Regions from separate parts of the Homo sapiens genome. Here region 1 is linked to region 2. The links come from fine-mapping of genetic effects on gene expression. A gene starts in region 2. The other region holds a variant in brackets. All regions are shown on one strand. Distances are between the middles of the regions. Region 1 overlaps DGKD (diacylglycerol kinase delta). Region 2 holds the start of USP40 (ubiquitin specific peptidase 40).

Evidence for each region. PIP is the estimated chance that this variant, and not a neighbour inherited with it, causes the effect.
Region 1: its variant is fine-mapped to the expression of USP40 in fibroblasts (GTEx, PIP above 0.99).

What each region holds. Positions count from the first base shown.
Region 1 is chr2:233,458,420-233,462,820 of GRCh38, forward strand. DGKD (diacylglycerol kinase delta) reads left to right here. Exons shown (of 30, transcript NM_152879.3): 23 at 1,338-1,472; 24 at 1,775-1,926; 25 at 3,929-4,040; 26 at 4,224-4,316. Among named protein-coding and RNA genes, the nearest start is that of DGKD, 110 kb to the left of the region's middle. The variant A/G (reference allele first, on the strand shown) is at 2,286.
Region 2 is chr2:233,564,859-233,569,259 of GRCh38, forward strand. It overlaps USP40 (ubiquitin specific peptidase 40), which reads right to left and starts at 1,924. Exons shown (of 32, transcript NM_001365479.2): 1 at 1,826-1,924; 2 at 498-715. The coding sequence starts at 696.

The DNA.
Region 1 (4,401 bases), 110 kb before region 2:
GTCTGGCCGAGTCCCCAGCCCGGAGTGTGCTAAATTCTGGGGCAGTGCATGGAGCCTGGGAGGGTGGGCGCTTTCCAGGGCCATGTGGCTGCCTCATGTCCTGTCCTGGACAGCTCGTGGCCCCACTTCCTGGGCCAGAGCCCTTTCCTTGTGCTATGCTTGACAGTTAAATTCTCAAGATAACTCTTTTTAATTTTTTTTTTTTTTTTTGAGACAGAGTCTTGCTCTGTTGCCCAGGCTGGAGTGCAGTGGTGCAATCTCGGCTTGCTGCAACCTCCACCTCCCTGGTTCAAGTGATTCTCCCGCCTCAGCCTTCCGAGTAGCTGGGACTACAAGTGCCCACCACCATTCCCAGCTAATTTTTGTACTTCACCATGTTGGCCAGGCTGGTCTCGAACTCCTGACCTCAAATGATCCACCCACCTTGGCCTCCCAAAGTGTTGGGATTACAGGTGTGAGCCACTGCACCCGGCCAAGATAACTCTTTCAAAATGTGTATCCTGCTTGAACCACAGCCTTGCCTGTCCCCTCTGAGGTGGGATGAGATAGAGCAGACCCAGGCTGGACTCTGCCCGTGTCTGCAGCTGTCAAAGCCGCAGTGGGGACGGAGCCCATGGCTCTGATGTGGGGTGTGGGAGGATTTCCAGCTGGGGCCCTCGATCATGGTTCTGAGGCCGAGTGGTGAAGGGCTGGGGGTGCCCCCATGGCTTATTTCTGACAGCAGCGATGGGCTGAGGGCAGTCTTTCTGTGAGGATGGGGCAGGACTCTGTACCCAGGCACAGGCACTGGGGCGGGGGAGGGTGCTGATGACACCCACTGGCTGAACCCCACCCTGCGACTGTCTGGTGTCTTCCAGCACTCTGTCTACCCTTAGCTGTAGGCTGCTTGAAGTTCACAATTTTCACTCTTTGGCAATGTTTGTTGTTGAAAAGGAGGAACGGGATGATGATGGATGGCTCATCGTCATCCACTGTGCCATCTGCTCTTTTCTAGGGGTGTTTTCACGTGGCAGGGGCCCAGTGGCTTCTGGGAGCTACAACACCCCTGCCCCTGGGTTCTGACACCTGTTGTCTCAGCACCAAGGTCTCCTGCACTGACTGCTCAGTGAGGGGATGGGGCGGGATGGGGCGGGACAGTGGGAGAACAGACCCTCGGTTGAGTGACACAACAGCAGAAGGCTAGCTGCAGGCGGAGCGCCATCCCAGAGGCAGAGGTGGGGTGTCCTGCAAGGCAGGGACGGGTGTGTGGAGCAGGAAGGTCATGGTGGTGCTGATAGCACTTTTAAACCCCTGGGGGTTTTGGCTCAGCATGAGTAATGGCTATGATGTCTGCTCAGTGTCGCACGGTGAAGATCTCCATCCTTGGGGATGAGGGCGTGCCTGTGCAGGTGGACGGAGAGGCCTGGGTCCAGCCGCCAGGGTACATTCGGATTGTCCACAAGAACCGGGCACAGACACTGACCAGAGACAGGGTAAGAGCGGCTGCCCGCGGTACCTGGGTGGGGTACAGGGCTCACCTGTGGGCTCTTGTGTGCACTGTTAAGAGCTGGAGCTTTTTGTGTTTTGTTCTAGGATTTTTTTTTTTTTTAAGACACAATGATTAAGCTAATAGGGCAGTAATTTCTAGGACCATCTCCTTCCCCTAATGTTAAAAAAAAAAAAAAGTCCTATTTGTCTCTTTCTAGTTGTGATCTCGTTGGCATCCCCATAGTGTCTGTCGCAGTCAGATGCATGCTTCAGAGCAGCAGGTGTAATTGGGCTTTCGGGTCCATAGGCATTTGAGAGCACCCTGAAGTCCTGGGAAGACAAGCAGAAGTGCGAGCTGCCCCGCCCTCCATCCTGTTCCCTGCACCCGGAGATGCTGTCCGAGGAGGAGGCCACCCAGATGGACCAGTTTGGGCAGGCAGCAGGGGTCCTCATTCACAGGTGGGCTCCTACCCCTCTGCGTTGCGCATGAGCCTCCCCCAGGGTCCCTGGGACTGCACTCTTCCAAGGCCCCTGGGGCGTGGAGCTGCTGCTCCTGACTTTTGTGGGGTCTGCATTACCCATGAGGGCCGAGCCTGTTTATGTGCCCTCAGCTCTGGCTCATTTCCCCAGTGGTCTTTCAGAACTCGCCTGGAGTTTACATGGCTGGAACCTAAAGCCCACTGTGATTTTCAGGACCACTCGTTTAAAACCTGCCCGGGCTCAGCCGGGCGCGGTGGCTCACGCCTGTAATCCCAGCACTTTGGGAGGCCAAGGTGGGCAGATCACAAGGTCAAGAGATTGAGACCATTCTGGCTAAC[A/G]TGGTGAAACCCCGTCTCTACTAAAAATACAAAAAAATTTAGCTGGGTGTGGTGGCGGGCGCCTGTAGTCCCAGCTACTCTGGAGGCTGAAGCAGCAGAATCAGTCGAACCCCAGAGGCGGAGGTTGCAGTGAGCCGAGATAGCGCCACTGCACTCCAACCTGGGCGACAGAGCAAGACTCTGCCTCAAAAACAAACAAAACAAAACAAAAAAACCCTGCCCTGGCTCCCGAGGGCAGCCCGCTGACAGCCGCCTTCACTTTGCCCTCGTTTTACCCTGAGAACAGGCTTGCTCTTTGTTCTCAAGTTTACTTTAAAAAAAAAAAAAAAAAAGACAACTGCTGGGGCATTTCCTCTCACCTGCCTTCTAGAAACACCCCTGGAGCCACTGTGTCCCTCGTGGCTGGTGGTCAGCATTGTCTGCCATTCCTGCTCCTCGCCCGCCAGGTGCGGGTTCCGCCTGTGAGTCCCTCCCAGCCGGCAGCTGTGCTGCTCCGCCGGTGCGGGGCCTGCCTGCATTCTCCCCCCGTGGCCGCACGCTGGCTGGTGCCCTGGTGTCCCTTTCTTGTTTCCCCTGGGCTCCTTCTTCTCCTGGCTGTGGACAGGTGCACCCGTCGGTTTTGTGCCCGGCATGCCGTGTGCCCTTCCAGGCAGCCTGCCCAGCCCTGGCGTGCAGATGGATCGTCTGTGCCAGCCTTCGGCTCTTGTCGAGCAGGTGGTCGCTGTCCCAGTCATCACCGGCGTTCCTCGCTCTGCACTTCCATACCGGCTGCAGTCCTTCCTGGCGCTGCATTCTCTGCCCCAGGAGTTGGTGCCACTGCGGCCCCTGTCCTCGTCTCTCCCCCACCCCACCCAGATCAGTGATGGGGCTGGAGGACTTCAGTTCAGCTAATTCCTTGCCGTGCAGTGGGCTTCTGGTGGCCTCCCCTGGAAAGCCATTACCCTGTCCCCTCAAAGCCCATGGTGGCCCCTCTGGCCTGCCTGGAAGGTGCACTTGCACAGCACTGCAGGAAGCTGCTGGCAGCGGCCTGTTTCCACAGGGTCAGGACAGGCTGGCCCCGCTGCCTTTGCTTGCACTGCTCCTATAGTCTCTGTCCCCCGATCTCACCTGCCTGAGCCACATCTCAGCCTCCCTGGGACCTGGTGTGACTTGTGCTCTCACCGTCTTCCCTATGAGGGCTGCTATCTGGGGTCTGGCTCAGAGCCCATCACTGCACCAGGATTGTCCTGTTCAGATGAGGGTCCTTTTGTCCCCAGGGACAGACCGGCCAGTTACAGGTTCCAGCAAGGCTGTGGGGATTGTGCCTTACTGCAGCAGTCTCTGCAGTGGGCCTGTGCACACTGTCACTTGCCCACTGGCCGTTTTACAGGTTGTAAGCCTCATTTTGTACATTTCTCTCCCTGGAAAATCTTGGATTTTGACGTCAGATTTCTCGTGGAAGCCCTCCCATTTGCTGTGGGTCATCCTGTGCCCAAGCTTGTGACTGAACGGTCGCTGGGCTGAGCCACGATCCCTGTCGTCCTGCTGGGCCTGCCCTCCACATCAGCCCTCCAGGTGGTACCTGGGCCGTGTTCAGATGCGTATTGTGAAAGGCTGCCCTTCCATTTGGCCTGACATCTGCCCGTGCTTCTCTTCCTCTCTAGTATCCGAGAAATAGCTCAGTCTCACCGGGACATGGAGCAGGAACTGGCCCACGCCGTCAATGCCAGCTCCAAGTCCATGGACCGTGTGTATGGCAAGCCCAGAACCACAGAGGTAGCTATTCTGGCCTTTTCAGTCCTGGCTTCTTCTCAGTGTCTGCCGCCCTCGGCCCTCCCCGTGCGTGTTCATTCCCCCGCCTCCCCGGTGCATGTTCGGCCCTCCCAGTGCTTGTTCCCTGCCCCTAACCGTGCATGTTCGGCCCCCCGCCCCCATGCATATTTGCCTGGTTTCTTCTAGGGGCTCAACTGCAGCTTCGTCCTGGAAATGGTGAATAACTTCAGAGCTCTGCGCAGTGAGACGGAGCTGCTGCTGTCTGGGAAGATGGCCCTGGTAAGCTGGTGCCCCAGGGACAGCAGGGCTCGGGCTGTGTGTGAAACGACTGCTGTCGCCAGGTTGCTGGGCACACAGGGCAGCA
Region 2 (4,401 bases):
CCAAACAAGCTCAGGTGAGATCAGATGAGGGTGTGAGCTTTCCAGATTTCAGAAATGCGTATGAACAACTGTGCACCCATATAAATAATATGACACCCTTCCCCACTCCAAAAGGTAGATATAATTGGTTGGATAACTCTGGCTTAAGTGTTTGTTATTCTAGAGAAATCTTAAAACTCAAACAGTGTAACAATAATGAAGACTGATACTTATGACAATTGTCTTTACGTTGTACTTTAAATTACAGGAATTAAAAAAGAAATATATTGCTTTATTTTTTTACTAAACATTATTGTCATCACCCAGGATATATTTAAGATTAAGCTTCACATTTCTCTGCAGAGGGAATTACCAATTTATATCTTATATGTGCAACAATAAACACATACTGTAGAATATATCTTTAAGATAATTGGTCTATTTGTGATTTTGCATAATTAATTACATGTAAAGAAGATGGTACATATTGCTAGTTAAATGTACGTAACATAGCATACCTCTGAATTCAGGTGTGAAATGAAGAGTCTGAAGAAGGGAATTGAGGTAACAGGTTCCACCCTGATTTCTGATTCCGCTTAAATTGGTGAATTCTCTAGGAGCAGGTGGCTCCAAAGCTTTAGTCTTTAATTTCTTCCCTTTTCCATACTGATTATTAGACACAGTGGAATACTCCTCTTCAAACAGGTCCCCAAACATTGTGAAACTAAATACTACCCTTAAAAAAAGTGACATATAAATGCTTTTATTTTTAAAATAAATTTTCCCCAAATCCCCCTACCTTACACTTGGGAGTCGATTCTGTTGTTTCTTAGAACACAGGACTACTGTTTCTATGTACAGTAGTTGGGTTTTGGAGGCAGCAAGATCTAGATTTTTTTCATCCCTATCAGGACCCTAACTACCTGTGTGACCCTGGATATGTTAATCTGTTTTCTTATGTGTAAAATAGGATACCATCTGTCTCTTCGGGTCATTTAAACTATCCAATGACATAACGAAAGAAGGGCAGTTAGTGTACAGGGTTTGGCCCACAATAAGTAACAGCTGTTTTTAAAAAGGCACGTTCACATCACTAATTTTTTTAAAAAAGAAAACCTGTTGCCACAACTAATCCACTGCTGGGACGGCAAAGCCAACCCTAAATTCTGAGAATCAACTCTCTAAAATCTCTGCTTGTCACACCCTTCAGTACTATATACCAGATTATGACATTTAAATTAAACAGATCAAGTTAACTTTTTTTAGAGCACTTTAGTACAGTCCCGAAGCTGTTGGGCCGGAAGTCAGTTCACTGGGGAGGGAGGGGGGAAGGGGAGCGGAGGGCGGGGAAGACTGCCACTAAAATTATCAAGCCTAAAGGCCTTCCAGTATGTATCCACTAATCCCATCGTTAGCCCTGGGGGCCTAGGTGACTTCCCCAAGGTTTCACATCGAGTGTGGCGGAGGGTCACTTGGAGATGAGAAACGTAAAGCGCCTAGCATAGGTACCAAATGACAGGAAGCGCTGAAATGCAATTATTTTTCTTTTCCTCAGAAGAAAACTAAAAAAACACAACTCGAGAGTCTAGCCTCGAGCTCGTTGTCTGCATTCCTGAATTCCCAACTCCTACGGCCGGCCGAGGCCCTCCAAGCCACCACAGGCCCAGGGGCGCAAAAAGGCAGAGGTCCCCGTGGCCCGAAACCACTGCCCCGACTCCAGGAGAGCGCCGCGTCCTCAGGCAGGCCTGGGCAGCCTCTCGCCTCGCCCTCCTCAGACTGGGCCACCAACACTGTCCCTACGCTTCCCACGTCCCTCCCAGGATCCCCGGGCGCCAGCCGCACTTACTGCCTAAAGCCCAGACCCCCGCCCTGGCCAAAACGCGAAGCGAACGAACCCGCCCCAACTGGGCGCCGCCATGTTGGCGAGGGCGGGTCTCCAGAAAGTGATTTATGGATCGTGGACTATGCTTCCCAGGATGCCCCGCTGGAGCGCCGGCCCCTCGCACGGGGCCTTATGGGAAATGTAACTCTTCTGCTCCAAGAGTTTGGGAACTGGAGCGGGAGCGGGAGCGGGCAAGGTGAGCTCGCTTACAAGTCCGCTGGTGAGTTCGCGGGTCCACTCGGCCAGCGGACCACTCATTCGTTCACATTTATAAGATTATAGCTATATGATCTTATATAAGATTATAGCTATATGATCTTATATAAGATTATAGCTATATGATCTTATATAAGATTATAGCTATATGATCCTTATATAAGATTATAGCTATATGATCTTATATAAGATTATAGCTATATGATCTTATATAAGATTATAGCTATATGATCTTATATAAGATTATAGCTATATGATCTTATATAAGATTATAGCTATATGATCTTATATAAGATTATAGCTATATGATCTTATATAAGAGTATAGCTATATGATCTTATATAAGAGTATAGCTATATGATCTTATATAAGAGTATAGCTATATTATAGCTATATAACCTTATATAAGATTATAGCTATATAACCTTATATAAGATTATAGCTATATAACCTTATATAAGATTATAGCTATATAACCTTATATAAGATTATAGCTATATAACCTTATATAAGATTATAGCTATATAACCTTATATAAGATTATAGCTATATAACCTTATATAAGATTATAGCTATATAACCTTATATAAGATTATAGCTATATAACCTTATATAAGATTATAGCTATATAACCTTATATAAGATTATAGCTATATAACCTTATATAAGATTATAGCTATATAACCTTATATAAGATTATAGCTATATAACCTTATATAAGATTATAGCTATATAACCTTATATAAGATTATAGCTATATAACCTTATATAAGATTATAGTTATATAACCTTATATAAGATTATAGTTATATAACCTTATATAAGATTATAGTTATATAACCTTATATAAGATTAGTTATATAACCTTATATAAGATTATAGTTATATAACCTTATATAAGATTATAGTTATATAACCTTATATAAGATTATAGTTATATAACCTTATATAAGATTATAGTTATATAACCTTATATAAGATTATAGTTATATAACCTTATATAAGATTATAGTTATATAACCTTATATAAGATTATAGTTATATAACCTTATATAAGATTATAGTTATATAACCTTATATAAGATTATAGTTATATAACCTTATATAAGATTATAGTTATATAACCTTATATAAGATTATAGTTATATAACCTTATATAAGATTATAGTTATATAACCTTATATAAGATTATAGTTATATAACCTTATATAAGATTATAGTTATATAACCTTATATAAGATTATAGTTATATAACCTTATATAAGATTATAGTTATATAACCTTATATAAGATTATAGTTATATAACCTTATATAAGATTATAGTTATATAACCTTATATAAGATTATAGTTATATAACCTTATATAAGATTATAGTTATATAACCTTATATAAGATTATAGTTATATAACCTTATATAAGATTATAGTTATATAACCTTATATAAGATTATAGTTATATAACCTTATATAAGATTATAGTTATATAACCTTATATAAGATTATAGTTATATAACCTTATATAAGATTATAGTTATATAACCTTATATAAGATTATAGTTATATAATCTTATAAATATGAATGAATGAGTGGTCACATTTATAAAGATATAAGATTATATTTATATAATCTTATATCTTTGTCTTTCGTCTGTGAATCAAACTAATGGCATGTCAAAGTATTGTCTGGACAATCCTTTCATTCCATAGCTTCCTCTCCTCCTATCAGATCCCCATGAAATCTCACCTGCATTAGGATGATAGCCTTTTCAGTGGACTCCCGTTTTACACACCCCTTCCTGCACGTCACTATAAGATGCACTATCCATCTAAGGTGCACTTTGAGCTCAAACCTCTCTGCTAAAGAAGCTTCCACGATTTCTCAACATCCACTGTGGAAATTCTTTATTTTGATTCTTAGTTCGCTGATGGTCCCAACATTCTTTTCATACTGTATTTCTCACTACACACCTATTTACCAAAGTGCTTTCAAATGTGCCATCTATAAAGCTGCTAATCCCTGAGCCTTTAAGGGAAAAGATAAACACCAGCTGCAAGTCTTTTTGTTTTATGATAAAAAGCCCTGTACAACGAAAACACTTTTTCTGGTTTGGTTCCATGAAAACCAATGCTCTGTCCCTGAAGTCAGGAAGTACCTTGCCAGTAAGGGACTTCCTTTTAAATTGCTTTTGATATTGGACAATGTCCCTGGCCACCCAGAACCCCATAGATTCTGCAATGAGAGCACCAAAGTGGCCTCCTTGCCCCTAAACACAACATGTCTAATTCAGCCCTTAGATCAAGGGGTCATAAGGAACTTTAAGGC